Linked DNA regions of Homo sapiens. The protein of the gene in region 4 interacts with the protein of the main gene of each other region in a pairwise test. Each region holds a gene or a part of one and is shown on either strand. Other genes may lie near its edges. The genes, in order: EFHC1, FGF1, TCEANC and VBP1.

Evidence for each region.
Region 1: the proteins of VBP1 (region 4) and EFHC1 interact in binary tests that used the Homo sapiens proteins (3 or more experiments, as listed by UniProt).
Region 2: the proteins of VBP1 (region 4) and FGF1 interact in binary tests that used the Homo sapiens proteins (3 or more experiments, as listed by UniProt).
Region 3: the proteins of VBP1 (region 4) and TCEANC interact in binary tests that used the Homo sapiens proteins (3 or more experiments, as listed by UniProt).

What each region holds. Positions count from the first base shown.
Region 1 is NC_000006.12:52,450,765-52,458,619, reverse strand, and holds part of EFHC1 (EF-hand domain-containing protein 1), read right to left. Parts: intron 5,933-7,855; coding exon 5,783-5,932; exon of another isoform or gene 4,526-5,782; coding exon 4,333-4,525; intron 1-4,332. UniProt on the Homo sapiens protein: Microtubule inner protein (MIP) part of the dynein-decorated doublet microtubules (DMTs) in cilia axoneme, which is required for motile cilia beating.
Region 2 is NC_000005.10:142,591,564-142,599,418, forward strand, and holds the end of FGF1 (fibroblast growth factor 1 isoform 1 precursor), read right to left. Parts: intron 3,922-7,855; coding exon 3,727-3,921; 3' UTR 615-3,726; downstream 1-614. UniProt on the Homo sapiens protein: Plays an important role in the regulation of cell survival, cell division, angiogenesis, cell differentiation and cell migration. Functions as a potent mitogen in vitro. Acts as a ligand for FGFR1 and integrins.
Region 3 is NC_000023.11:13,655,286-13,663,140, reverse strand, and holds part of TCEANC (transcription elongation factor A N-terminal and central domain-containing protein), read right to left. Parts: intron 7,853-7,855; 5' UTR 7,768-7,852; intron 3,490-7,767; 5' UTR 3,455-3,489; coding exon of another isoform or gene 3,373-3,454; intron 2,111-3,372; 5' UTR 2,019-2,110; intron 641-2,018; coding exon of another isoform or gene 633-640; coding exon 1-632.
Region 4 is NC_000023.11:155,211,840-155,220,017, reverse strand, and holds the start of VBP1 (prefoldin subunit 3), read right to left. Parts: upstream 3,536-8,178; coding exon 3,443-3,535; intron 1-3,442. UniProt on the Homo sapiens protein: Binds specifically to cytosolic chaperonin (c-CPN) and transfers target proteins to it. Binds to nascent polypeptide chain and promotes folding in an environment in which there are many competing pathways for nonnative proteins.

The DNA.
Region 1 (7,855 bases), on a different chromosome or scaffold from region 4:
TTTTTGACTTAATAATAGCCATTCTGACTGGTATGATTGCATCCCTCTGATGATTAGTGATGTTGGGCATTTTTAAAATGTTTGTTGTCCATTTGTATGTTTTCTTTTGAGAAGTGTCTGTTCATGTCCTTTGCCTACTTTTCAATGGGGTTATTTGTTATTTTTCTTGTTGATTTAAGTTCCTTATAGATTCTGGATATTAGACATTTGTCAAATGCATTGTTTCAAATATTTTCTCCCATTCTGTAGGCTGTTTCCTCTGTTGATAGCTTCTTTTGCAATGCACAAGCTCTTTAGTTTAATTAGGTCCCAATTGTCAATTTTTGTTTTCATTACATTTGCTTTTTTTTTCCCCCTGCTCTGAGACAGGGTCTCACTCTGTCGCCCAGGTCTATGATCCATTTGGGGTTAACTTTTATGTATGGTGAGGTAAGGGTTGAAGTTTATTTATTTATTTACTTTTGCATAGGCTATTGAATTGTTCCAGCACCTTTTGTTAAAAAGACAATCATTTCTCCACCAAATTGCTTTTTTACCTTTGTCAAAAATCAAATGACCTCATATGTGTGCATCTATTTCTGGACAATTTGTTCTATTTCATTGATCTGTATGTTGATCTCATCAGATTGTAAAGTCTTTGAGATATGGGGCTTATAGTAGTTTCAGATCTCCATTGCCTAGCATGGTGTTTCCTTCATCTATATGGATGTTCGATTAATATTATTCGAATGACTGAGTGAGCCAACAAAGATGCACAGAAAGTGAGGAAATACATTCAACTTTCTGGAACACTAAAGGTCTAAGGGGTGTTCAAGATTCATCTAACAGGCAAGGGCAAGATCAAACTATGAAAGCCAGTCTGAAGGATAACTAACATATTTAGACTTTCAGAACCTGGTTCCTTGGGTTCAAGAGCTGAGTAGAAAGCTTTTGTTAAGTCAAAAGATGTCCTGTTTTGATATTACCTGCCACCTATTGGTAATATGCAATTGCCCTTGACGAAGAAATAACTTTCTGAATTTCTGATATTTTAACTCCATCCATTATAAATATATAATTTTGATTTATCTTAGCTACTTAAAAGGAGGCCCTGGTTGAGAGGACTTCTGAAAGTTACTCCCATAATTTCCTATTACTGTCTAATACAAACTCTCTGCCTAGCCACCATCTCTTGGGCGCCCCCAAACATGCCATACTTGTTCCTAATTCCCAACTTTTGCTCTTGTTCTTCTTTCTAGTGAGCTCTTTGTTCTCTGCCATTCTAAATCTGAGTCTAATCCCAGCTCTTCCACAAAGACTTCTTTAGTTTTTCAGGCCCACACCTTTGTCCTTCTGACCTCGGTCTGCATGACTTAACTAATTACATAATCAGATAATCTGGTATACTCATGTTATTACTTAACAGCTTTGTGTATTTTATATGCCTTGTCTTCTTAATGACACTAGAAATGACTGAAAGATAGGATTCTAGGAATGGGAGTTACATTTTGTCCTCCATAGCATTTAGCATGTGAAATGGTTCCCATAGCAGATTATTTACCTCTTGTTTAATTGAATTTAATAAAAATCACCCATTGGATAAATGCCTTTGAGAGTCAATTAGACATCATTCTTTTAACACTACCCTTCTAGTTAAAGGAATTATGTAGCTGATGGGAACATAGCCTTTTCTGTACCTCATGACTGATACCTTTTTTCTTTTTTTGAGATGGAGTCTTGCTCTGTTGCCCAGGCTGGAGTGAAGTGGCGCAATCTCCGCTCACTGCAGCCTCTGTCTCCTGGCTTCAAGCAATTCTCCTGCCTCAGCCTCCTAAGTAGCTGGGACTACAGGCACCTGCCACCATGCCCAGGTAATTTTTGTATTTTTTAGTAGAGAGGGGGTTTCACCATGTTGGCCAGACTGGTCTCGAACTCCTGACTTCAGGTGATCCTCCCACCTTGGCCTCCCAAAGTGACGGGATTATAGGCTTCGGCCACAGCGACCAGCCTGTTTCCTACTTTTTAAAAGAACCCTATATATGCCACCAGGCTGCCTCTCCATGCAACTTTGATAAAAAATTTTTAATTGGGAAATTATAGAAGAGGATAATTATATATTAAGTTTTCAATATAGGTCACATTGATAAAGCAGAGACAAACCTGGAATCTGTCATTTAAAGGGATTTAGTTTCAGTGAGACTTTTCATGCCACCCTGAATATATTCCTATCCATTTTCTTTATCTATTGTAAATCTAATGTTTGTTAGCTCCGAACTGCATGGATTTCAGGCTTGTTTAAGCATTCTGAAAGGCCAAAATTACTATATTAGTCCCATTGTCATTGAACTCTAAGACGGTTCTGTAGAGAACTGATTATAAGAATATGTATAGTAGGTAGAAGCCAAACTATGTTGAACTAGGGCACAGATCCAGTTGTTTCTATTTGAGAATACAAGCTGAATTAGCAGTATTTTCATTTTTTTAAAAAAATATATAACATAAACTTTCCTAATTCTAAAATGATGACAATTTTCACTCCCTTTTATCCTTTTCCCCAATCTCATTCTCCTCTCCTCACATGCAATCATTCTAATGCAGCTATGTGACTGAATGTGTCCTACGTGTACTATGTTTTGCATGTGTTATAGCATTATATATCTAATTTCATGTATTTTTTCCTACACAGCACTATGTTTTTAAGATCCATCCACTTGCTTTCTGTGTACATCTTGTTTACTGCTTCTAACTACTGTATATTAATCAAAATGTACCTTCACTACATTTTTGCTTATCCATTCTCTCAATGATGGAAACCTCCAACTCCTTGCCCACAAATAATACTGCATTTTTCATAAAAAAGCACTGTGCAAGTGAAGCAATATGTACAGACACGTTGAATTTAGCCTCAGACTACACATTTATTTATAACCTCTAATGTAGACAAACTTCTTGCTCAATACCTGAAATTTCTTTTTCTTTTTTTTTTTGAGATGGAGTCTCACTCTGTCACCCAGGCTGGAGTGCAGTGGCACGATCTTGGCTCGCCACAACCTCCACCTCCCGGGTTCAAACAATTCTCCTGCCTCAGCCTCCTGAGTAGCTGGGACTACAGGTGCACGCCACCACGCCCAGCTAATTTTTTGTATTTTTAGTAGAGATGGGGTTTCACCATGTTAGCTAGAATGGTCTCGATCTCCTGACTTCATGATCCACCTGCCTTGGCCTCCCAAAGTGCTGGGATTACAGGTGTGAGCCACCGTGCCCAGCCCCAATACCTGAAATTTCTTATATCCTAATTCCCAAAAAATATAGTAAAAAGAAAAAAAAATCAGTGAACACATTTACAGAATCCTGTCAGCCACCCAAACATAAGAGCTATCAGTCATTACATGTGACCAAGATGACATTATTCTAAGAGAAATGTAAAAACTACTAAGACAATAACTAAAGCAAGCCTACTCATCCCAGGAAACAGTGAACAGCAGGTATTTGCTGCCATTTTGTTGCACTGCCACTCTCAAATATGGTAGGTAACTTTTTTTCTTTTTCTGGAGATAGGATCTCACTGTTGCCCAGGCTGGAGTGCAGCACCACAATCACAGCTCACCGCAGCCTCGACCTCCCAGGCTCAGATGATCCTCCCACCTCAGCCTCCCAAGTAGCTGGGAATACAGGTGTGCGGCACCAAGCATGGCTAATTTTTGTATTTTTTGTAGAGAGGAGGTTTCATCACGTTGCCCAGGCTGGTCTCAAACTCTTGGGCTCAAGCAATCCACCCGCCTCAGTCTCCCAAAGTGCTGGGATTACAGGAGTGAGCCATCATGCCCAGCCCATGCTAGGTAATTTTAAACCAGTAAAGAATGAGCTGGGTTTGACACAATGGACCTCACCTCTATGAGTCACAGACATGCCTTTTCCAATCTCAAGTTAAACCACATAGAAACTTCCTGTTTAGGAAGTAGTTGAAGTGAGAAGCAAAGTCAGGAAAGCATATAAAGAAAAGCTAAGCTTTCATTCATATCCTTGAATGAAAACAAGCCTGTTTGAAAAATGCATTAAAAATCTAATATTAAATTGTTTCAGTTCAGAAACCTTGCTCTGCTGCACTTTAAATAAATCTCCCACTGTTGTTTTGGTTTTGTTTCCTTGACCTGGGTACCAGACTGTCTTGGGGGCACGCCTGGACCGAGGGGCAAGTAAAGGAGGAAAGCTGTGGGAAGCCATTTTCTGAGCATCTAAGCAAAAATAGCTAGAGGCTTCCAAGTATAAACGAATTTTGCATACTGATTAAGTAACTCCTTTAAGAACCTAAAAACATCCCAAGTAACAGAGAATAAACTGAATCAAACATACTTGCATTTTCCACCAAAACTTTGGGCACACGCTGGCGGTTCATTAGGAGTGGGAAAGGATCTCTCCCATCATTCCGTTCGTGGACCTCTCGAATTTCCACCGTATCATCCATAAGATAGTAATGAATGATGTAGGTCCGACATTCACCATACATGCTGTCTGTATCATCCCAGATTGCATAGAATCGAAGGACCTTTGAAGAATCCAAAGTAGTGACTCAAGAATCCTAAAAGTAGGGAGTTCAACTTGGCTACTTTGGCAATTATGTATCAACGATGGAAAGACTAGCTGGAAAGACTATGAAGTAATTTCAGATGGGGTAAATTGAAAAAAAAAGAAATATTCATCAAACATACTAAAACATCTGAAATTATGTACTATATGTCAGCAGCTGGAAAGAATTAAATAATAGGATTATAAGTTTGTGCCAAAAAAGAAGAGCTCACTTTGATCCAAAATATTAGTCAGTGAAAGAGAAGCTAAATTAAAAGAGCAATGAAGTTCTTTACATAGTGGTATATATATATTAATAAAGGTACATGTGAATATGGTTTATATATAATTAGTGTAGAAAAAATTTTTATTTATTAACCAGTCTTTTTTTGGTCCCATCAACACATATCTTCTAGCAATAATATAAACACAATCTTTTTTTTTTTTTTTTTGGCTAGGCTTCTTCAAATCGTGGGAATAAACACAATCTTTAAATACAAAATAATAACAGATATATGACTGATATGAACAAAATCCTTAAAAGACCATGCTAGTGCTAGTTTACATTTTCTGAACTAAAAGGGGTTAAATGTCTAAAGAAAAGGAGCAGCAAAGAAGCACTGAGGGTGATCTCTTCCTTTTCTTTCTCCCTTTAGTACAGAAAGGGAAGGATTTAAATCTGCTTATACACATCAGCTCACAAGGGAGAGGATTAGGAAGGTTGGAACAGAGTTGGAAAATGCTCAGAACATTCTGGACTCCAATATTAATATAACATTTAACAAGGAAGCATCTGTAGTGGGGCTTCTGTGAAATTAAACATTTTAACATTACAACCTACATGTATGCATATTTGTGAAATTTCCTAATAATCGATTTATGGTTTCACAAAGGAGTCTATGAAATTAGCTCATTTTAAGGGAAAGAAATTGTCAATTGGAAACGTAAGGTGGGAAGCAGATGTAGCTCAGGAATTGCTTTGAGATTTAAATGTTTGGTGAGGTTCACAAAACAACTCCGCAACTCCACGATCTTCTTTGGATCTCCATATGAAATGTAGGCATTCCTGTACCTGTAACCCTTGATGAAAGCAGAAAGACAGTACTGTGTCCAAACAGTTCAATTATAGCTGTAATGTTTCAAAATAGTTACCAATACAGCTACCCAAACCTTTTGCCAATAAATGTAGGTCACATTTGGAAATAAGTAAGCCTATTGTGGTTCCTATGTCACTTACCTGTTTGTCAAAGGTGAGAAATTGCTTGAGTTGATCAAAGTCTGATGGGGTGACATACTTACGAAGAGGCTGTTTTCGGAGTTCAGTGTAAGGATCAAGAGCCATCTTCTCTGGTGGATTTAACTCAATTCCTTGGCTTTCTAAAAATACCTAAATAATTGAAAGTTAACAATGATCATCTTTCTTGGAGCTTTTCAGAGTAAGTTATAAACTGATTATATAAAAATAAGTGTATGGGCCAGGCACTGTGGCTCAGGCCTACAATCTCAGCACTTTGGGAGGCTGAGGTAGGAGGACTCCTGAAACGCAGGAGTTCACAATCAGCCTGAGCAACATAGTGAGACCCTGTTTCTACAAAAACATTTAAAAGTTAGACTGGTTTGATGGCATTTGCCTGCAGTCCAGGCTACTCAGGAGGCTGAAGTGAGTAGACTGCTTGAGCTCAGGAGGTCAAGGCTGCAGTGAGCCATGATCATGACACTGCACTCCAGCCTGCGTCACAGCAAGACCCCGCCTCAAATAAAGAAAAAAAGAAAGAAAAAGTGTAATAATGATTTCTATGCCATTGCTTAAGTTAAACATTAGTTTGCTGCTTGAGCGCATGTAAGCTGTATTAAGTCTCCAACTGAGCCAACTCCATAATGCAGGTAATAATTGAGAGTTACCTGAAGTATTTTATATTGTTATATTGCTAGGTATTTGCTAAGCTAGTTGGGAGGCACAATGGCAAAATAACTGTTTTCAAATAATTTAAATCAATCAAATTTAGTTAGGTGCCTGTAACAGAGTAAGTCTTAGGATTGCTTACTTTCATATATCTGGAACCTAACCATGGTTTCAAACAATATGTAATTCCTATTAGGTCTGGAGGCAAGATGCACAATGGCCAAGTTAGGCTGAAATCATATTCCCAATTTTCTAATTCACTTAAAACAAATACTGTATATGATTAAGTCCCTTCCCCTCACCAAAAAAGAAAAAAAAGAAAGCATACCCACTGGTTATATTAGACCAGAAAACGTGTTAGCAAAATAGGAAAGACAAACCAAGTGCTCAAATTTCACCAGACATTCCTGAAAGGGACAGTGAGAAAGCAAACAACTTGGAAAACATATTTCAGGATATTGTCCACAAAAACCTCCTCAACCTCGCTAGAGAGGCCAACAATCAAATTAAGGAAATACAAAGAATCCCTGCAAGATTCTATGCAAGGAGATCATCCCCAAGCCACATAATCATCAGATTTTCCAAGGTCAAAATGAAAGAAAGAATGTTAAAAGCAGCTACAGAGAAAGGGCAGGTCACGTACAAAGGGAACCCCATCAGGCTAACACTGGACTTCTCAGCTGAAACCCTATAAGCCAGAAGAGATTGGGGGCCTATATTCAACATTCTTAAAGAAGAAAAATCTTCAACCAAGAATTTCATATCTAGCCAAACTAAGCTTCTTAGCAAAGGAGAAATAAGATCCTTTTCTGATAAGCAAATGCTGACAGAGTTCATTACCACCAGACCTGCCTTACAAGAGATCTTAAAAGGAGCACTAAATATGGAAAGAAAAGGCCATTACCAGCCAATACAAAACACACAAGTACACAGACCAGTGACACTATAAAGCAACCACACAAACAAACCAGCATAATAACCAGCTAACAACACAATGACAGGATCAAATCTACACATATCAACACTAATCTTAATTATAAATGGGCTAAAGGCCCCATTTAAAAGGCACAGAGGCCAGGCATGGTGGCTCATGCCTGTAATCCCAGTACTTTGGGAGGCAGAGGTGGGTGGATCACTTGAGGTCAGGAGTTTAGGACCAGCCTGGCCAACATGGTGAAACCCAGTCTCTGCTAAAAAATACAAAAATTAGCCAGGCATGGTGGTACACACCTGTAATCCCAGCTACTCGGGAGGCTGAGGCAGGAGAATCACTTGAGCCTGGGAGGCAGAGTTTGCAGTGAGCTGAGAGCACGCCACTGCACGCCAACCTGGGTGACAAAGTGAGATTCTGTCTCAAAAACAAACAAACAAAACAAACAAACAAACAAAAAAACCACAATGCAGAAT
Region 2 (7,855 bases), on a different chromosome or scaffold from region 4:
TGCATCTGTGTGTGTGCCTGTGTGTGTGATTCTGCATGATGTACTAGGCAGCAGCGTACTTCCTCCTAAGAATAAGATGTCATAAGATCCAGAGGTTTATTTAAGGAAACACTGCTTAAAATGATAATTTAGAAAATCTGAGAAGCAAATCTATAGCTCCACACCAGGGCTCTTAAGATGAAGAGATCCACCCTCTTGCCATTGACTTAAAATTGTAAATAAGTCCTTAAATGTTTTTTTTTTTTTTCAGGCCATATCATATCTTTGCCTAAGCACGAGCCAGTCACCTCAACAATAGTAGCATAATTTTACATGGTTTATGTTAAGAAGAAAAAGTTTCACCTGAGTTATTTATGGTGCCTGGCTCCTCAGGAGGCGAATTTCCTGTATATGTATATTACCCTAACAGAAATGTAGAAAATCACCCATACTGCCTTCTGTTTCCAAACACATTGAAAAATGTTTCTACCTTCGCATTCCCTGTTAGCCTTTAAAGTCTGACATCTGGTAACAAGGTAAGTATCGAAAACTAAGCAGCCACACCTCAGGGATGCTGGGGAGGTCCTTTGATAGAAAGATGAGGCAGCAGGATGCTCAGAAACTCAGAGACATTATCACCTATTATTGGAACATTTATTAATATTTGTAAGGTGCAGACTATGATACACAAAAAGACAGTGATGTGAAATAACAGGCATCTTCATCAGAGGTCTGCTTTGCAGCCTGTGAGTTTAGTTGTCAGCAGTACACTCAAGGCTGAGGACTTGGCGCCTTGGGTTCCTTTGCCTCTGACACAAAGCAAGGACCTTCAGTACTAGCTGATGCTCCAATCAGTTTTTTGTTCATACACACTGTTGGCCATTGTGAATCTTTCTTATCATGCCTTCCAAGGAAACCAATACCTACCTCCACCACCATCACATTGCAAACGACCAAAAGCACATATGTTCATGATGCTTTGTTCAGAGCTGGCCCGAAAATGAATCCATATGAGAGTCACGTGACAGGAGCTGGCTATGAGACTTACTTAAGACAGCAATGGGAATGTCCCCAGGTTAATAAACTAGAGCATGTTCAAAACAGAGCAGGGAACTACCAACCTCTTCCTTCTAAGAAGATCTGACAGGCTCTTTGGCTGATTTGAAAGCAGTCCCCCTGAAGCTGACCCGGTTCTAAAGTTGAAAATGCTAAGTTTACCTTGCCATGTCCTCTGACATTTTGATAGGGGTTTATTTTATGCTGGGGTTGCTGATTCTTCCAAAATCTGGGTTTCTGGGATTTGCTTTATTCAGCAGGAACCTACAAAGTCTGTGTTTATTCTTGACTGAAAGAATTGAATCCACAGCATCTTTCATCATAAATATAATGCCCTGGGAGAAGATACAGCAGCAAACCAGACAGACAAGGTCCCCAGTATCCAGTACAGTGCCTAGCACACAGTAGGCACCTTAATAGTCATTGAACAGATATATGAATGATATCTGGGCTGAGATGGTCGAGGTCACATTGGTGTTTTTACTACAATGCTTTGCATCTCCGAAATCACAGACTTCCATTTCACAAGTTAGCAATGGTATTTAATTTTCCTTGGCCAATGTTATGCTTGAGTTTGATTCATACAATAAAAAGTATGGACCATTATAATTATCTTAGATTTCCTCTCTGGGTATCTTTTTCTGGCCAAATCTTCATACTAAAGAGACGTTAAGCCACACTGCATTTTCTCTAACTTGCCTGCAAAGATTTACTAAAATAAAACAGATTGATCTTATCCAAGTAACAAAAACAAAAAAGTTATGAAATTATTTTGCTGCACAAATCTAAAATACTATTATTAACCATAATGTCAGCTTACTTAGGTCAATTCTTCAATTGCACTATTGCTTTGAACTTTCACAAACTGTCATTTTCCTTCCATTCTAAATATGACAGTTCAGTTACTAAGGAATTGTTTTTAGTTAACAATTACTTCAATTTCATATGAAACAGGAGCTAACACTCTCATCAATTTTTATTCACAATTACCATTGCTTAAGAGTTCCTACTTTCAAAAGAAAATTTGTAATAGCACAGTGGAAAACAAAAATCTCATTTTATAGGTAAATAAGTATCAGATAAGTGAGTAGCTTATACATTGTATCCTATTACTATCATTCTCAGTGCCTGAATACTAATCAGTTTAACTGCTTTCAAGCTATATATTTTTAAATGCAATTAAAACATACAGTCTCACAGTAAATTTCAATGACTTATTAAAGGCCTTTACATGGCATCAGTATCATATGTTAGAGATGAATGGTGTTTCTAATTTGCTAGCCACCTGGGTCAAGTTTAAGCAGGAAGTGTATTTATACAAGTAATGGTAATACAAATGGTCTCCTGGGAAAAGCTGTTGGTAAGGGTTTAACATTTTTGAAGTATGTTTTTGTATATCTTCGAAATGGGCATTTTATAGGCATTGGGCCAAAGCCTCTTAAAATCATGCTCCTTAGTACAGGCATAACTATTGTCAGTGCTGCCTGAATGCTCAGGTAGACTCATGAGGTGTGCATTTTTAAGGGTTAGTTGAGGTCAGGTGAGGTTCGGGGCGTCGAACCACCTTCATTTGAATAACTCTTTAGGACCAGGACCCTGCTCCTTAATGTATGGCGGGTAAGGCAGCAGTATTGTCAGCACCTGCACCTGGGGGGGACCTGATGGAACTGCAGAAACTCTGCCCCCAACCCACTGAATCAGAATCTCCATTCAAACCAGGTCCCCAGATGATCTGCAAGCACTTCAGTGTTGGAGAAGCACTGGGCTAGGACCCCAAAGCCTCTGCTTACCAGGGGCCAAGCACAATGTGTGGCATTACTTTCTTTTTCCTTCTCCTTCTGAAATCATCCTCTTTTTATGGTATCCCCTCAGCCAGTTTCCCTTTCTTTCTCTGCACTCCCACACTCAGTCCCCAGATCCACATGAATTTCCCAGCTCTGATATCCTTGCTTGTTATCAGGAAACCACTTCTAGTGCTCTCCACCTGAAGTCACCCAGGGCTCTCTGCTGCTGAGTAACCTTGGGAAGGTCAAGGCGTGGTAATGACTCCCAAGGATTTATTCTGCCTTCCTGCGGCTGGGCCTCCCTTTCTTCATTTATTCTACATGGAGATGCCATCCTTCTAAGTTACCCACCAAAATCCAATCTCTCTTTTCCATTTTAAATGCCTCTGTTCTGAAGGGGGGATTTCTTTGTCCCTGTTTCTGGTCATGGAATGCTGCCTTCCTAACCTGGCATGAAGCTTCTTTGCTAATATTTGCAGGGCACAGGAAGGACAAAAGGGAGCCATGCCAGATGTTTGGGGGAATCACAGATAGGGTTTACTCAGTAGAGGGAAATAGTGTGCAGTTACTAATGTCCCACTTAGCCGACCCCTTAACACACTTCATTTAGCCCCACTTTTGCATGGAGGGACTCAGCCTGCAAGAGGCAATTGGAGATCCAAACCCAGACCCAGACTGGCCAGCCAGTTGACTCCTAGAAGCAATTTGGTCCCTCTGTTCTAAACTGTGCAGGGGTAAAAGGCTCTGCAAAGAAGTGAACTGGGCATTTAGAAGCAAGTTGCTTACAAATTCAGGCTCTGTGGGCTGGGGGTTAGCGCAGCCAATGGTCAAGGGAACATTTTTGGGTCAACCAGGTGAGGACCCCTCGAAACTTCTCTGGAGTGGTCAACACCCAGAACAGATCTCTTTAATCAGAAGAGACTGGCAGGGGGAGAAACAAGATTGCTTTCTGGCCATAGTGAGTCCGAGGACCGCGTTTGCAGCTCCCATTCTTCTTGAGGCCAACAAACCAATTCTTCTCTGCATGCTTCTTGGATATATAGGTGTTGTAATGGTTCTCCTCCAGCCTTTCCAGGAACAAACATTCCTCATTTGGTGTCTGCTAAAAAGATAAAACCAAAAGAGAGTAGGACAATCAGTGAGTAGTTTCACATGGGGGTCCCCATTTACTAGCTGTGTGACATTGGGCAAAATACTAAAGCTCTCCATGCCTCAGTCTCCTTTTCAGGAAAATTGGGGTCATGGTGGAACTTATTTCACAGGGTAGTCATAAGGACTTAGAACAGCACCGGGCACTAAAGAGCTGTCAATATGCATTTGCTATTATTGTAAACTTCCTTTCCATTTAAAATCCATTGTAAAGTAATTAAGATGCTACTGATAAGAGCACTTCTAAGAGTCCTCAGGACTCTAGAATCTCCCACTGGGGACATTCTGCTCGACTGTAAGTACCTTGAGGGCAGGGCTGGATCTTTCATCTCTGTAGTGGCCTGGCACACAGGCCTGACCATGGAAAAACATTCCAAATAGGTAAAAACCAGACTGTGATGTAGTGGGTTGTTGTTGTTGCTGTTGTTTTAACTTGAAGGCTAGACTTAAAGAATAAACAAAAAGCTGCTAAAATGCCTTTTATCCTGGTGATTTTCACTAACGTCAGGATTTTACCTGAGTATTGTTATGAAGATATGCTTGTGCAAAATTTATCCTAAGCATGAAACATATCCTAGAATGTAGATTTTTTAAAATGAAAATAGCTTTATTTTTTGCTACTTATAAAAAGAATCTTATAAATAGATGCTACTTGTGGTCAGGCACAGTGGCTCATGCCTGTAATCACAACACTTTGGGAGGCTGAGGCAGGAGGATTGCTTGAGCCCAGGAGTTTGAGGCCAGTCTGGGCAACATAGCAAGACCCATTCTCTACAATTTTTTTTTTAATTAGCTAGGTGCCATGGTGTGTGCCTGTAATCACAACACTTTGGGAGGCTGAGGCAGGAGGATTGCTTGAGCCCAGGAATTTGAGGCCAGTCTGGGCAACATAGCAAGACCCATTCTCTACAATTTTTTTTTTTTTAATTAGCTAGGTGCCATGGTGTGTGCCTGTAATTACAACACTTTGGGAGGCTGAGGCAGGAGGATTGCTTGAGCCCAGGAATTTGAGGCCAGTCTGGGCAACATAGCAAGACCCATTCTCTACAATTTTTTTTTTTTAATTAGCTAGGTGCCATGGTGTGTGCCTGTCCTCCTAGCTACTTAGGAGGCTGAGGTAGGAGGATTGCTCGACCCCAGGAGTTTGAGGCTGTAGTGAGCTATGATTGTACCACTGCACTCTAGTCTGGGTGACAGAGCAAGAACCTGTCTCTAAAGAGTAATAAAAATGCTACTTATAAGAAGAATTGTACTTTTAAAAATATACCTTTACTTTGTAAAAAGAAAAAACTATCCCAAAACCCACCACCCAGATATAGGCAACTGTTAATCACTGATAAACATCCTGCCTTACATCTCTTTATGTACATACAGACTAGATAAGGCTATATGGATATAGACTTATGATATCATCAAAATGTCATGTTTTATTTGATGTTTTAAAAATGAACAACAAACCTATGAAAACATTCAATACTGCTAACGAGAAAAATGCAAATTAAAAATTATTTATCATATGTTAGCTATCCTATGTGCAAAGATAAAAAAAAATTTGTGCAAAGATAAAAAACCATTTGCAAGACTTAGAATGTGGGAACTAGGCACTGCCATGCACAGTTGGCGAGAAAAATTAGTGGAAACTTTCTGAAGACAATTTAGCAATATGTATCAAAATTTACAAGATGTATTACCTTTGACTCAGCAATTTCACTTCTAGGAATCTACCCCTAGGAGATGGTTGAGTAAGTGTACAACTGTATTTTTGAGGATGGTCTCTGAACCAATGGTTATAGGGGCAAGCGATTAGGAGTAACCTATATGTCCATGGAAAGGTGATTGGTTAAGTGGGTAAAAGAATATCCGTACAGTAGAACCCAGTGCAGCTGTACATTTATTAAGTTGAAAATCAGCCACAACGTATTAAAGAGTGCAGTTACTTGAAAAAAATCCAGCAACCACTATTTTGCTTACTTGTAGTCAATCTGTTGGTGGAAGGGGAACTCAGTTTTTGAACTTTCTATTCGTCAAGATCTTAGAATATATTTATTACATTTGGGTCTAAAACAGGTATATTAAAACACTTATGCTGGAACTGAGACATCTGACTTTGCTTTGCCTTTTTCAAGTCGTGTGACCCCTGCAGTCTCTCTTCACCCACAGTGGTTGGTGATTCCCTGTCTGGCGGTTTCCAATTATATTGTTCATTGTTCTCTATGTGTGAGCATGTTTGTTTCTTTAGATTATAAACCCTAGTGAGGAAGGAGATGGAATCTTGTTGGTCTTCTCTCCATCCCCCAGACACAGAGCCTTGCAAATAATAGGTGCTCACCAGCTAAGTAATGCATTTAATTTGATTCTTGAGATAATATAAAGCAGTCAGTAAAGTCAGCCTTTCTTAGTAAGGAACTGTGTAACAGGAAGTATCCTGCTTCTTATTCATTCATAATCTAGTGAAATGACAACAGGGTGAGACACTTTAGATCATATTGGAACAAGATGAGATATAAATATAATATTTTATTGGATGACTCTGCTGCCTCTAGAGGAACTTGGTGCAGACATTCGTGTTTGATGCATGTTGTTGGGGGTAGAAGGAGGTAGACAGCTTGGACCTATGTGGGTTGCCCACTCCCTTGTAGGGAGGACTCATGCCTGACACCTCATAGTGGGCATCAGGCCTGTGTTCTGTGACGAAGGTGAGGATGGCCACATTCCCCACCTGATGTCTCTATTATACTGGAGGAGTTGACACACACAAAATAGCTGAGTCACAGGCTGAGTCAGCAGGCCAGATCAGCGGTGCTCCGTCCCTCCACCAGGATTTGTTAGCACTCATTATGCACTTGGTACAATGCTGAAGACATGTGGCTTAACTATTGATTCATGTCTATTGTTTAAATTGTCTTCTTTTTTATATTTGGCATGTTTCCCCTCCCACCCTAAATTACATAGGTGACATATACTTACTGTAAAAAAAAAATTGGAAAATACAGGAAGTTATTCACATATTATAAAATCACCCATTCTCCACCCCCAGAGATAACTATATCAGTATTTTGATATATAGCCTTTCAAACTTAAAAAAAATATACATATCCTTTCCACACACACAAGTTTGAATCAGGATGGATTAGTGCCTAAATTTTATGAAGAGCATGAAGCAGAGCTTTGAGATATCTTAGAACTTCTCTTTATCAATGGGGAAAATGCAAACATTCTTAGGCGTAATATACTAAGATCATATTTCAGGTGAATTGTAGTGATGGCCACGGCTATGGTGGGAGAAGGGGGTGCCTGGAGCCTATCGGAAATTAGATTCTGGGAGTTCTCCCTCAATATTTTTATATAAGTGAAAGCAGGTTACAATAAACGTCAAAATTTATTTAAAGAGGGAAAAGCCATAAAACTGTGGCATAACCTAAGACACAGTGAGGGTGAGGGGCTTCTAAGCTGATGACTTGTCTTACAGCCACCACTGGTCTGTGACGTGCCAGCCACTCTGATGGGCGCATTCTGTGTGTTGCACCACTGAACCCATGTACGCTCTGTGTGAGGCGGTTATGATCCATGACTGTCCTCATTTTAGACAAAGCTCAGAGTGGGTAAGTGACTTGCCAGAGTGGCAGAGGCGTGAGATTCAATCATGAGTCTGAGACTAAGCGATTGACTGATGGATTGATTTTACTACCACTTGGAAGAACTACCTTAAAAAAATCCCCTACTGCCAAACCCCTTAAAGCCGTCCCAGGTGATCTGTACTGAGCACATAGCATTTTAGAGGTTACCTATTACGCTGATGATTTAATCTCCTGATCCCTAGTGGGCAGTGAGAGGAAACGAAGCTGTGTTCACATTGGGACCCTTGGCTGAGATGACAACTTCAAGAG
Region 3 (7,855 bases), about 140 Mb from region 4:
GTAAAAACATGCTCTTCAATTTCTCTTGCAAAGTTTTGCCACAAATCAGCTTTGGGTTGATCTGTGGAAGAACTAGTTAAAGCTGCGTAAAGAAGCTCTATGCATTTAGTTCTCATGGGTGTTGTGGGATCCAGCAACTCACTCGATCTCTTGCCAGTGGATTCAGGGTCACCATCCCCAAAATGCTCTTCCTTAGGTTTCAATTGAATGGCTCTATTTTCAGGCACAATCATTTCACTGAGTTTTGCAACGTCTTGGGAAGACAGAGAATTCGAGCTGCAGATGCCCAGTGTCTCATTCTGACTTGGGTCATGAGAAGGTCCTGAATTTTCTTCTTTATTACCCCTCACAGGAAATAATTTAGGGCTGTTCCTCGCTTTGGAGTGAGTCTGCTTATAAACAGCTTTCCACTTTGATAGCAAACACTTGGCTTTCTTTTTCAAAGCCACAGAGGGGCAGTTTTTGAGGACTCTGTACACAGCTCTGACCACATCTGTCTCCTGGAGATGCTCCTTAGTCACATAAATTGTTTCTAGCTCAGTAAGGTGGTTGCCAAGATCCTCAAAATTCCTTTTGGACATCAGTTGCTCAATAAGAGAAGCTCTGGCAGCTATCTGGTTCTTGTCAGACATCTTTACAGCTGCAAAGAAAAAAGAGGTTTCAGTTTTCTTAAGTTTGCCGTTGCTAGTCGCAGCTTCTGGATACTAAAATAGCACTTTCTGTCAGTTACCTAGGCAATGTTTTCCGAAAGAGTCATGTAATACAAATGTATGCGACACGCTAGAAAATGGAATCTTTAAGGTGACGGTATGGTTTACTCTCAAGAGTTTAATTCCTACGAGTGAAAAACAAACAAACAGCATTGCAGAGCCTCTACATAACATCTGCTTAAGAGGCTTGCCGGAGGATCTGCTATAGCTTTTCCACCTCCAATTTTACAAATCAATGATCTTTCTAGATTAGTCAATCCATTTGGGCGGAATCCGGTGGTCATGTTGGAGGTGAAATCATGCCGGTGTCAGCATCAATATGGCAATGCTGAACAGTGCTAGACAATTTTTCCCCAGAGTCAGCTATATAACTGAACTACTTGCTCATTTCATAATCTTTAAAGTGGTACTCTTCTGAAAATAAAAGAGAAACAAGACAGAAAGGGTTTGCTAATGTCTCAAGCAATCTAAGGAAAATGTGAGACAGCACAGGTTGAAAAGCAGCTAGAGATACGTCTGCGGGTCCCAAAAGCCAACAGGCTACACTGTGCTGCCTTAGGAGTCTTCTGAACAAGGGAAAGGTTCAGACTCAATGATCCAGATGATTTATGACTTTAGACTAACTGGTTCTTACATTTTGGTTTTGTTAATTTTTAAAAAATTTTTAAGTGTAAAGAGTTGCTCAATGATTATGTCTGTGTGAATTTCATCCTAGGCAGGCAAATGTTTACTTTTATCTATGCAGTCTATTTTTTCCCTCCACATAATGTACATAATCTTGTCTATATAATACCCTTGGATCTATATTTATCTGTCTGGTCTAAATGTGAACATAAGCATCTTGATGGCAGGGACTGTGTCTTTTCAAAAATCCATGGGCTCTGTTTTATAGCACTTGATATTAAATAATCACCACCGAACATACACAGGCTAAGAACACTGAAGTGTTTAGAGAGAGAATTCACGCAGTCTTCCCAGACACCATATGACAAGTGACATAAAACATAATGACCTTTTAGTAATTCTACTTCCATAAATTTACTTTAAGGAAATGAGAGATGTGGAGACTGCATATGTAAGAATTTTCTTCTAAGGAGAAATTAGAAGGCCCTCAAATGGTTAAATGGAGAATGGTTAAAAATATGGCACACTCCTAGGATACAGTAATATAACCATTTAAAAATCATGTATTTAGATAATATTTAACGACATGGAAAAATGGTCATAAAGTTAGGTGAAAAACAATCAAGATGTAAAACTATATAAAAGACTAAACAGTTAACATATGGGCCGGGCATGGTGACTCACCCTGTAATCCCAGCACTTTGGGAGGCCGAGGCAGGCAGATCACGAGGTCAGGAGATCGAGACCATCCTGGCTAACATGGTGAAACCCCATCTCTACTAAAAATACAAAAAATTAGCCGGGTGTGGTGGCGGGCACCTGTAGTCCTAGCTACTTGGGAGGCTGAAGCAGGAGAATGGCATGAACCTGGAAGGCGGAGTTTGCAGTGAGCCAAGATCGTGCCACTGCACTCCAGCCTGGGCAACACAGCAAGACTCTGTCTAAAAAAAAATAATAATAAATAAATGAATAAACCAGTTATCATATGACCCAGCAGATCCAAGAGAAATGAAAACATATGTCCACACAAAAACTTGTATACAAATGTTCATAGCAGTATTATTCACAATAGCCAAAAATGGGAAATAATCGAAATGTCCATCAACTGATGAATGGATAAATAAAATGTGATTTATCCACACAACAGAATATTATTCTGCCATGAAAAGGAATGAAGTATTGATACAGTTACAACATGGATGAACCTTGAAAACATTATGCTGAGCAGAAGCAGCCAGACAGAAAAGTCCACATATTGTATGATTTTATTTACATGAAATGTCCAAAACAGGCAAATCTATAGAGACAGAAAATAGATCAGTTGTTGACTAGGTAGGGTAGGGCAGAAGGGCAGTGGGGTGAAGGAGGAGGAGCAGCTGATAAAGTTCAGGGATTTTCTTGGGAGGTGGTGGCACACATAAATCTTCTCAAGATTTATTTGTGGTGATGGGTTATACAACTGAGTATACTAAAAAACACTGAATTGTACACTTTAGGTGAACTGTATGGTGCGTGAATTACATCTGAATAAAGGTGTTATTTAAAAATAGAATTTGATCCAAATTTTATTTAAGAATTACATGTGAAAAGACTGAAAAGAGATACACAAAATTTTAAAGAGGGGCATTTTCTGAATGGTAAGATTTTAGGTAATTTTCATTTGTTATTTTCCTCTTCTGTATTTTCTGTGATGAGCATGTATTGCTTTCATAATCAGAAAAGTTATTGGTCTAACGCAATTTCATGATAAACTATATGCACTTAAGATATACCTACTGAAAAATGGTATGAGCAATGAATCAATCACCTTCTACCCACCTCCCCTCTGGAACGAGAATGTACATAACACTACTGAACTGTATACTTAAAAAGGCTTAAGACAGGCTGGGCGTGGTGGCTCACACCTGCAATCCCAGCACTTTGGGAGGCCAAGGTGGGTGGATCATGAGGTCAAGAGATCGAGTCTATCCTGGCCAACATGGTGAAACCTTGTCTCCACCAAAAATACAAAAAGTTAGCTGGATGTAGTGGCGCATACCTGTAGTCCCAGCTACTCGGAAGGCCGAGGCAGGAGAATTGCTTGAACCCGGGAGGCAGAGTTTGCGGTGAGCCGAGATCATGCCACTGCACTCCAACCTGGCGACAGAGCGAGACTCTGTCAAAAAAAAAAAAAAAAAAGGGCTTAACACAGTAAATTTTATGTTTTGTATATTTTATCACAATTAAAATTTTTTAAAGAAATATGAAGAAAAGGTCAATAAAAGAACATATAAAATGAAGAGCAAAGTGCTTTTTGGTTGTTTATACATAAATACATTAACTTCTATAGATTTACTCATTTTGCTGGTAAGACAAATTGCTGCTTTCACCCCACTGAAACCCCGAAGCTATAATTACAATTCCCTTTAAGAATTACCTTGAAACTCAGACCTTCAGTTGAGAAATTCTGACCTGAGTCAAATATTGCTTAACTTCCTTTTGGGCGCTGTAGGCCCATCTCTTATTCACCATCTTTCTCAATGCCTAGCAAACCTCCATCCTGATTTCAATAGTAATGCATATAGAATGCAGGCACATTGAATGTTTCTTCTTTGTTAGGAAACTTTTCAACGAGTCGGGGAGGGCTCAAGTATATTGAATAACTTGAAACTTTATCACTGTGACACAACTGCGTGACTTCAAGATCTGAAGCAGACAATTCTGAGAGAAATGTTCGCTAATAGAGGGTGTGAATATTTTTTATTTTTCTGTGCTGTCTTGCCTGTTGTTTATTAAGAGTTTGATTCTTAGGAAGACCTCTTTTACTGTATGCAGTCTTTAAAAGTGGAATTTTAAAAAGGCAAAAAAGAATTATCTTTTAAGTGCTGGTTCACAATAATTAGGAAAATTACATAAGATCCTGAATTGATGGCCCTTTGTGAAACTAACTTTAAAACAAAACAAAACTGACTGCCCCAGGTTTTCTACATTCCAGCTCCCTCTGGTGGTTAAAAATGTAGGACTCAGACTCTTGGTTATGTAAGGGTACTTAACTCTTCATATTTGGGGATAAAGTTTGAGGGGAGATGCACCTGTTTGAGATGCAGTAATCGATTTCTGAGGCAATTATGAATACTTATCTGAATGCAAAGCCACAGGTGATATAGCCACTCTTAAGAGACGATATTCACATTTCAGAGGGAAGGTGGGTAGAAGGTGATTGATTCATTTCTCACCATACCATTTTTCAGTATCTTAAATGTATACAGTTTATCATGAAATTATATTAGACCAATAACTTTTCTGATTATGAAAACAATGCATGCTCATCACAGAAAATACAGAAAAGAGTAAAAGAACAAATGAAAATTACCTAAAATCTCACCATTCAGAAAATGCCCCTCTTTAAAATTTTGCGTATCTCTTCAGTCTTTCCATATGTAATTCTTAAGTAAAATTTGGACCAGATTCTATTTTTAAATAACACCTTTATTCAGATGTAATTCACATACCATACAATTCCCCTAAAGTGTATAATTCAGTGGCTTTTAGTATATTCACAGTTGTGTAACCCATCACCACAAATAAATCAACTTTAGAAGATTTATCTGTGCCACCACCCCCCAAGAAAATCCCTGCACTTTAGCAGCCACTCCTCTTTCTTCACTCCACTGCCCTTCTGTCCCACCCCACCAAGTCAACAACTAATCTTTTTTCTGTCTGTATAGATTTGCTGTCTGGACATTTCATGTGAATAAAATCATACAGTATGTGGTCTTTTGTATCTGGCTTCTTCTATTCAGCATAACGTTTTCAAGGTTCATCCATGTTGTAGCATTTTCAGTACTTCATTCCTTTTCATGGCAGAATAATATTATGTTGTGTGGATAAACCACATTTTATTTATCCATTCATCAGTTGATGGACATTTTGATTATTTCCCATTTTTGGCTATTATGAATAATACTGCTATGAACATTTGTGTACAAGTGTGTGTGTGTTTTTTTTTTTTTTTTTTTTGAGATGGAGTCTCGCTCTGTCACCCATGCTGGAGTGCAGTGGTGCAATCTTGGCTCACTGCAATCTACACCTCCTGGGTTCAAGTGATTCTCGTGCCTCAGACTCCTGAGTAGCTAGGATTACAGGCATGTGCCACCACGCCCGGCTACTTTTTGTATTTTTAGTAGAGACAGGGTTTCATCATGTTGGCCAGCCTGGTCTCGAACTCCTGACCTCAGGTGATCCACCTGCCTTGGCCTCCCAAAGTGCTGGGATTACAGGCATGTGCCACCACACCCGGCCTGTGTACAAGTTTTTGCATGGACATATGTTTTCATTTATCTTGAATCTGCTGGATTATATAACTGTTTAATCTTTCATATAGTTTTGCATCTTGATTTTTTTTCACTTAGCTTTAGGACTATTTTTCCACATCATTAAATATTCTCTAAAAACACGATTTTTAAATGGTTATGTTATTGGATCATCCTAGGAGTTTGCGATAGTTTTTAATCATTCTCCTATTTGGGGCCTTCCAGTTTCTCCTAAGTTTGAAGAAAATGCGTACATATGCGGTCTCCACATCTCTCGTTTCCTTAAAGTGAATTCACAGAAGTAGAATTACTAAAAGGTAAATATGTTTTATGTCACTTGTCATATGGTGTCTGGGAAGATTGTGTGAATTCTCTCTCTAAACACTTCAGTGTTCTTAGCCTGTGTATGTTCGGTGGTGATTATTTAATATCAAGTGCTATAAAACAGAGCCCATGGATTTTTGAAAAGACACAGTCCCTGCCATCAAGATGCTTATGTCCAGCACTCTTTTCATCCTCCCAAACTGAAAACTCTGCACCCATTAAACAACTCCTCATTCTTCCCTCCCTCCAGCCCCTGGCAATCACCACTCGACTTTCTGTCTCTATGGATGAGACTACTCTAGGTACTTCATGTGAGTGGAATCATACAGTATTTCTCTTTTTGTGACTGGCTTATTTCACTTAGCATAATGTCCTCAAGGTTCATCCATGTTGTAGCATGTGTCAGAACTTTCTTCCTTTTTAAGAATGAATAATATTCCATTGTCTATACATAACACATTTTGTTTATCCATTCAAATGTCAACGGATACTTGAGTTGCTTCTGGCTTTTGGCCATTGTGAATAACACTGCTGTGAGCACTGGTATACCAATCTCTCTTTGAGACCCTGCTTTCAATTCTTCAGAGTATATACTCAAAAATGGAATTGCTGGATCATATGGTAATTCTATTTTTAATTTTTTGAGGACCCACTGTATTGTTTTCCATTCCCTTCCACATTTTTAACAGGATTTAAATCCAGTCAAACTTTCTAGTCCTCTGTGGGACCATCATGTGGATATAAAGGATTTATTGCCCTAGGAGGGTATAATGTGGAAGCCATTGAAATACAAAATTCTGACAATTGCCATAAAAAGACAAGGTAAGGCATATGTCCAGCTTAGTTCTACATAGTTCATTCAATAAATATATATTAGGGATTGAGTATGTGCTAGATGCTGAGCCTAAAGAGACAGTCTCTGCCTTGAAGGAGCTGATAGCCTAGTGGGAGTAATACTGACAAGAAACTGGCCAGTTACAACACATGTGGAATTTCAACATGGACAGACACTGGCTGCTAGGGGAAACACACGCAGGATGGCACCAAACCCTATCTGGGCTCGCCATCATCTGGACAGCTACAATTTGCTTCTTTACTGCCTTCACTGTACTTCTGGCACTCACAAGGCCCAACTGTGAGTCTGGCACTTTGTTAGAGGGATCATCCTCTAGTACAGATCTCAGAAAGATACTCCCTCATTTTCCTGCTGAAAGCCCTTGAGAGGTTTCCCCTTGCTTTCATGATGGAGCCAAAGCTCCTTGGCCAGTGGCAAAAAGAGCCCTAGCAGGCCTCCCTCTTGACTACTCGCAACCACTGATGGGCACGGCTCTGTGCCTTTGCTCAAGCAGCATCCCGAGCCTGGCTGATCTCTCACCATTAGTGGTTCTCAAGCCTGGCTGCACATTAGAATCCTCTGGGGAAATTAAACAACAAAAAACAAAAACAAACAATGGCAGGGCCTCACTCCAGATAGGATGAATTAGGATCTCTGAGGGTAGGGCCTGCATATTGGCTCAGCTCTCCAGGGTGACTCTGATTTAAACCACACACAGGCATACAACCCTCTTCCACACCCCAGCAGGACCTGCCAGTTAGGCTGCCATCAGCCCCAAAGACAGCTCTGGTTCTGCTCCTGGACCGAATGCAGACAACTCTATGACTGGCTTTTCTAGATGAGTCCCATTCAGTCAGAAAAGATTTAAAACACCTACTGTGTACAATGCAGCTGACAACCTTCTCTACAAATTACAAATGACAACTGTAATATTTTAAGTGTCATAATGTACACAATTCCTGATATTCACCCTCTCACTTACCTCTTCACAGTGGAAGGCAACATATATTTATTGAGCAACTCTCCAGGCCACACACACTCCAGTCATCTCAATCCTCACAATACTCCTG
Region 4 (8,178 bases):
ACCAGAATTGTTTTGGATTTTAGATTTTTTTTTTTTTTTTAGATTTTGGAATATTTACATTATACCAGTTGAGCATCCTCAATCCAAAAATCCAAAGTCCAAAATGCTCCAATGAGCATTTCCTTTGAGCACTATATTGGTGTTCAAAAAGTTTTGGATTTTAGAGCATTCTGGATTTCAGATTTTCAGATTTAGGATGCTCAACCTGTAGTTATAAAAAGTTAGAGACAATTTCAGATGGTACATATATATTATATAGCTAATTTATTCTTTCACTTTCCTCTTCATTTTTTATTCAAAAATAGGAAAAGAAGAATGACCTTGCCCACCACTTTATGCATTTCCCATGCATCCCTAGTAGTAAATATGAAACTAACAATCAAATACATTGCCTATTCATGCATCCTATTCACAAAATGATTTTACAGGTTGCATGTCAAGATTATCAATTTTATTACTTATTTTTAATTCAACAAGTTTTACCATAGAAATCATACTAAATATGGTTACTGGGTTCCCAAGGCAATCCACAAATGCTTCCTTCAGTATCAAATAACTGAAACAAAGTAAACCTAAAAGGCAAACAGAATAATCTTTTGTAACAGTAATAACTGATCAAAAGAAAAGCAGTAAAACTGATGTTAAAATATTTTTTATACCACATGCTGATCCTTGAAGAAAGGCTAGTTAATTAGATAAGGATCAGAAACAAGATGAAAATATATGAAACTTAAAAGAGATGCTACAAGAGTCGTCTAGTACTTTACAGAACTCTAGTTCTTTATTATAAGTAACTTCAATTATCTTATAGCTTCTAAGATCTTCACATCATTATTCTTATCCATATTTACTAGCTACCAGAGAATATCTTAGCTGAAACAAGGAAGAAAAAGGAAGAGAAACACAGCAAGGGAGTGAACTAAGAAGCCATCAAACTAGACAGTAAAGGAAATTGAAAAGGTGAGGCTGAGAGATAATGGCTGAGTTCTGTATGTTAAAGAGAGATGCCATCTTCCTAGAAGGGTCACTGCAGGGAAGAGAAAGAAGTGTAAGTTTCTGGCACATGATACATGTTATCAGGTGCTGGAGTTTAGCAAGAATTAACTATAGCGGCATAGGCTGTGGTTAAGAGACAGGAGGTGCCTGGTTTGAATCCCAGCTTCGCCACTCATTAGATGAGTTGACCTTAGGGAAGTTATTTAACCTCTCTTTGCCTCAATTTCCTCATCATCTGTACAAGTACCTTTTCGTCACCAGGGATTAAATGAGTTAGCATATGTGAAACGCTTATAAGAGTACGTGACACCTATGTATAGCATAATGTGCCACAGGGACACAAAGTGCCAGGGATTTTGTTTTGGGGTAGAGGTCAGAGAAAACTACAGGGAGATGATATCTGAACTAGATGTGGAAAGATGAAGAGGTCATGAAATGGACAAGGGTGAAACAACAATTCAAGCAGAGAAAGAAAACAAATTACTGCCTCAGCGGGGTTGGGGAATGGACTGGGTCTGACTTCTAACCACTATGGTATATTGCTTCCTATCATCATGAATATTAATACCTATTCGACACCTACTACACTGCAATACTGCAAGCATGTTCTCTGTTTCCCATAACAACTCTCTAAGTATTGTCATCCCTATTTCAGTTAAAGAAACTCAAGCTCAAAGTGGTAAAATAATATGCTTAAGGTTAAGCAGCAACTGGGAAGCAGAGCCAGGATTCAGACCCTGGTCTATTTAGAGGCCAATAATCTTTCTACAATACCATGTCACTTCAATTATTAATAGTTTGGAAACATAAACAGTTATATAAAATTTGGGTTGCTTATTACATTATGTTGGTAGAAATTTTAAGGTCTAGAAAAAAATAACCACGACATTGTAGGGAAAAAGCATTTCAAGACATTATAAAGCCCTCAGATAAAGTGTCTCCTCCCGAGTTAGATTTCTGACGCCATCTCTAGCTGAGCACCATGAATGTAACATTTAAGGCCCTATGGAAATTCAATTAGACACTTAGTTTGAGCTTATACTATGTGTGAGGCACTATGCTATGACCAGGAGAAGTAGGGCGATTCATGAGAACTACCTCACCTCCTCCCAGTAGCAGAGCATGAGGGGTAAGCTGCCAGTCTGGACCTCCACGGATTGTCCAAGTTCAAACCCTGGATACCTCACTTACATCCTGTGTGGCCTGGGGCAAGTTACTCAAGTGCCCCGTACCTCAGTTTTATCATCTAAAAAACGGGCATAACAGTAGTAGCTACCACCTCGAGTTTTGTAAAATCATTAAGAAAGTGCCTGGCACTCAACAAATTTTATTCCTTGTTATGGTTAGATAATAGATCAATGTAGAGAAATAAATGACACAGCTCATAAAAACACAAAATAATAACCAATTACGAAATTCAATCAGCAAATGCGAATATACAATATCAAGTGTGGTATAAATAAATGAGTCTTTAGAAGGATATAAGACGTAGTTAGTAAAAAAAAGGCAGAGGTAAGGTAAGGTACAAACCAAAAGATTGAGAAACTTCCATGAAGATTTTATAGTAGCTAAGTGGGGACAGACAGATGACCTGGCCTGGAGGGCCAGTCAGATGTTTTCTCTCATTAGTCAAATAGTTTTCAACTACTATTTCTAAATTAAATAAATAAAATAAAATTTTTAAAAAGCCACCCAGCACAGGCAGCGCCCTCCAGAACGGCCTGTGGAGCAACCCGATCCCCTCTAGGACACTAGCGAACCTGGGACCTAGCGCCATCAGGAGGGTTCAGCCTCCTCTCTCAACAATTCATTCTCCACTAAGTTGTTAGAATGATGTAGTTAAAACGAAAGGCCTTCTGATGACAGCCCGTTGCCTACTGGAAAACCTCAATTCCTTAGCAAGACACAGAAGGACTTTACACTCCCAACCTATCATCCTATTTTCCCATCGGTCTCTTCTTCCATTTCCCGAGGCAACATTCCCGAGACCACTGCATTCCTTCAACAGACAAAGTGATATTCCCGGTTTTCACATCTTAGCACTGGCTGTTCTGCCTATTCATTGTACTGTGTCTCCAGCATCCATGCTGAGTCGAGAGCTCCTCACCACCTCCCCTTTTCCAACCAGCAGGGGGACGAAAACCGGCGGCAGCCCGGAGGTCCCTCAGGCCGCCCTGCCCTGCCACCCGCCGCCCCTCGCCCCTCGCCCCTCGTCCCGGCCCCGCACCCCGTTCTCTTCTACGGCCTTCTCGAGCTACGTTTCTTCCGGGCGGGCCCCCAGCAGAGCTCAATCTGTCCAGGTGCGAGGGGTGAGAGCAGACCGAGCGCCCCCTCCCTGAACACTTGGCTCAGCTCCTTCCAACAGTCGAGGCCTGGGTGGGAGCCGGGAAGAAAGGGGCAGTCCAAGGCCTCAAGCCAAGATGCCAGGGAACAGCGTGCCTCTTACCACAAACACGGCCTCAGGAATCCCCAGGTGGAGCCGCCGCCCATTCCCTGTGGCCATTTCTCCTTTGCCACAACTGTCCTTAACGGCCGCCATCTTGGGGATGCGAGCGCGCGACTGCCTCCCGGGCCGCCGGCCGCCGGGATTCCGTGATTGGCTTGTTCGCACTTGCAGGCCCGCCTCTCCATCTCCATGCACATTCATTGGTGCGCAGGGAGCGTCCCCCACAAGTCCCCGTTCTCCTTTGGCCGAAAGTAGCCCAACCTCTAGGTGCTGATTGGCTGCGCTCAGGTAAGTGACAAGCGTGGAAGGGCCGCGAAAGAGAAGCTGGAGCGACAGGAAAAACCCATACGTCCTCCTGGGAAAAGGGGTCTTGTGAGTGAGCGGTGCTAAAGCCCTAGGAATAGGGACCTAGCCTGACCCCACCCCGACCCTAGAACTGGCAGCAGCCTTCGCAATGGCCTCTGGAGCGACCCAATCCCCTCTCTCGGATGCTAGCGAACCTGGGACCTAGCGCCATCACGAGGGTTCAGCCTCTGTGCCTTTCTGGTCTCACCATCCCAGGGAGCTTCCTGCCCCTTGAAGGGAACTTACTTTGTGTCTGTTTCAGAGTGGTCACTGGCCTCATTCTAATAAATACCCTGCCTGTCGCACCAGCCTTTCCTGAAAGCCACCTTTGATCAGAATGTCTTCTCTCCAGCTCAAACGTTTCCAAAACTTCATAGTCTACATACAAAATCCTAAGAACTCCACCTAGGCTTCTAGGCCCATGGACTTACCCAATGTCATCCTACACTACAACCCTTTAAAAGCACATGTGTCATACAGAACCAAGTAATTATTCTTCGGGCTCTTTTCTGTGCTTTATTTCACTGGAGTGTTTCCCAGTGAGGCAGTGCTTCATCCACTTGCACAAATTCTACCATGAGCCTAAGAATTACGCAATGGAAAGTAAGTCTCTCTTCTCAGAGGCAATCACTGTTACCGGTTTATCTCCGCACATAATGTACGATCAAGCATATAGACATAGATATGTCTTTAGATATAATATGAGGAAGAAATTGGTATCGTCATATTGTGAATGAGGAAACTAAAGCTCAGTGAACCTGTACAGCTCCTCCAAAATCCTACAACTACATAGTAGTGAAGCCGGAATTCCAAACTAGTTCTCCAGTGGCTTCTATGCGATTTGGCTTGGGAGGATGAAGACATGTTAGCTAACCATGACTCTGACCTTTTCTGGTCAGCAGTTTTGTAAGATAATGTCTCTGTTCCTGGAGAGAAAAGTATATGGGAATTCTATTCTTCACCACTCTCCCCCACCTCAGTGCCTTCCAAAAAAAAATTTTGTTTTTGAAAAGTAGGTAACGTTTCTACAGAAAAACATTGAGATATCAGATACACATGCAAATTTTGTTCAACTTCACTGATCCCTATCTATATTAATCATTGTTAGAACCAATCAAGGACTTACTTCAAACTTTAGGAAATATTTCTCCAAATTATCACTAATTTTAATTTGGAATAAATCCCTCTAAGAGATATAGTATTTGACACTTCGGGCCAGGTTTTTCTTTTGGAGCCAAAAGCCTTATCAGCTTATCGCTCATGTTTTACTCCCTTACAGGTACAAACAGAAGATTCCCTTATTTATACTGCTGAATATATTTCCTTTCTAGTGTTCTCTTAATTAGAAAGTTGTATACCAATTCTTTCCTTCCTGCCATGGCTGCAGCAGCTTTTCCAAGAGTACACTAACCTTATCAACTCTATAGGTGGTCATTTTCTTATCTCTTAGCAAAAAAAAAAAGGAAAAGAAAAAAAAAAAAACCTTCCTCTTGCCAGATCCAAATCTAGCTATTACCTGACTAAATATGATTGGTCTTTAGCAACCCTTCAGTAGCCCACACCTTTTACAGCTTATCTTTAGATTGCTTTAATAAAAGCATTTTTTAAAACAGACTTTAAAAGGTTGTAGTTTTTCACCATGGACACTTTTGAAACAAAACAAAACAAAATGTAAAGAAAATACGCATACAACAGGAAACAGAACAACTTAAACAATCATTTCACGTAGTGTTGTGCTGATAAATGTTCAACTAATTCTCTTTAGAAAGGGGGTATATATTTATTATAAATTGTATTGATGTAAAAGGTGTATAGCACACAATTTCATAAGTGATAATAAAATATACAATACTCTTTATCGTTAATTCTGTATAACCAATTCTGACAGGATGCTTTTGATTTTTGCCAAATACATATCTCCCTAGACAACCTACAGTTGCAATTGATGAACTAGTGTAGTTCTGACATGAATGTTGCTTGATATTTTCATTTATGTTAAGTAATAAGAAAAAAGTAATTCAACAATTATTTTTATATTGGTACTTGGATCATTCATCAACAATGTGAGTGATTTATTTGCTGAATTGGATAATGGTTTTCAAATACCAGAAAAATATTGCCTCATTTTATGGTGCTGTTCACAATAATGGCTACAGACACAACTCACTTTTAAGCTGAATCTGCATTAGTAACATTTTCTCCATTGCTTTCAAGTCTAGAGTGACAAACATAGATCAAGCCGTAGTTTGTAGCATCTACCAATTTCTGTAGCCTGGATACTCCCACAATGGCTGATTTCAATCCATGTCGAGTTGGGAGGACATGCCCAGTAGCACACAGATACAATCGATGTAAATAACCTCAAGAGCATAGGTAACATTCAAATGTCGAAAAATAATTAGAAGGTGATAAATTTTGAATATTTATTACCTTTGCCTTTAAAAGAATTTAATTGTAAATTTTTATAATTTAATTTTAAATGATGGCTGTGTTTAACAACCATCTTGCAGAATTTCTAGAAATTTAACAATTGGTTCTCACAAGCTGGTACAAGCCAGCTCTGGTGCACCACTGGCTCATATTTTGGGAAGCCAGAGTTTAATGACTTCAGTGAATAGTACCTGTAAATGTCACACTAATGTGCTCTGCAGAGAAGGAAGAAAATGATGTGACATACAATTGGAGTCCCCTGGAAGAAGAGGGTGATATCCTTAGCAACTTCCAGAACCCAGATAACCAAGAGTTGACTTAAATTTGTACAGCCGGGAACCGACAACAACTCTCACTCCATCTTTGCCTGGAAGCTTTGTGCAGGTAACAGGTTCTGTCCCAATCTCCACAAGCCTCTGAAATTACTCTGAAGAGCTGCAAATCCTGAGGCTGGGGGAATGTGTCTCCTTTTTCCTGAGCCTGGTCACTGGGGTCATTTCCTCCCAGGAAGCCCACTGGGAAAGAGCCCAAGGCCTTCAGAGAGATGCCAAGCATTTCAGGATGTTCTGAGACAGCCTCTGCTCGACCTTCTGATTCAGTTTCTAATCCTGACTTCTGAGAGCAGAAAGTGCAGTTTCCCCTAGGGGCTTTGGAACTCCCCTGGAGGGCACTCAACTGTGATAGTGCTCCTGCATGCTAAGCCACCCCAGCCTCTTGGGGCTATTTCCTAGTAAGTCAGAATACATGTGTATTCTATTTCCAGACATGCCAATGGGCCTCCATACTCACTACCCTGGGTTGTTGAGTGTGCTGGTAGTGTTCTCACTGTGTATTGTTATTGTATCTTCAGTGTTTTTGCTCTGTTTATACAAGAGAGGACAAGGTAGGATTTTCCTAGACAAGGTAAAATGTGGCAATGTGATTTCCTTTTTCCTGGGACTGATGTTATTTATCCAAGGTGATGTGGAGAGGTCCTTTGTTCAGGGAACTAACCCTTCTGCAACCCCCACCCCACCACCTCATCTGCCAGAATGATGGCCCTGGGGACTCCCAGACATTACCCTGCTTTATTTCCAGAATCCATTTCTAGGCTTGCCACTGTGTAATAGGCCCTAGAACTTGGGTTCTAGTTTAACCCTGTCATTTAACAGGCTGTGCCTCATTAGACAAGTGTCTTCACCTATCTAGCTCAGTGTCCTCACATGTGAAATGTGAGCTTTGGACTAGAGGATCTCCAGACTCACTTCTAGTGCTAATACATTTTGACTACGACCTCTGGTGAGTCATCAGGGCACTAGTACTAATTCTGCATCCCATGGTTGTCACTAGATCCCACTGGATCCTCCGGGTTCCTTCTGTAACTATGCAATTCTCAATTTAGAAAACCTGATCTTGGGCCCCAAGGTGAGTAATTACACCCTCCAAATCCCTCTGCCCCCATGTCCACCCAAGCTCTTCCTTTCCAACCAAACCCAATAAAAAGCATGGATGTAAAAAGGTTCAAACTCTGCTTTCATGTTCCTGAATCTCCTTTGGGCCGGACTCCTTAGGATACATGAAGACCTTCAGTATAAGCCATGGTAAATTCCCAGTCACAAGTTTTCCTGTATAATAATTGGGAGAGATGGTGCATTTCCAGCACAATGGTTAAGGCTAAGAGCATGCACTTTGCAGTCAAGCTTGATTATTTATTGGCTATGGGATATTAGGTTAGTTACTTTAACACTGTCTCAGTTTTCTCCATTGTAAAATAACCATAATAATAGGGCTTTGGGCACATATTATTAAGTAGATTGAATGGAATTACACATAATAACATACTTGATACTGTGCCCAGTACCTAGTAAGCCCTCAATAAATTTCAGCTACTGTCCTGATAATTGAAAGGCATGGATATGGCACAGAATAAGAAACTCAAGGGTTTGAGACATGAGCCATAACATGTCATGATAATGGCCTCA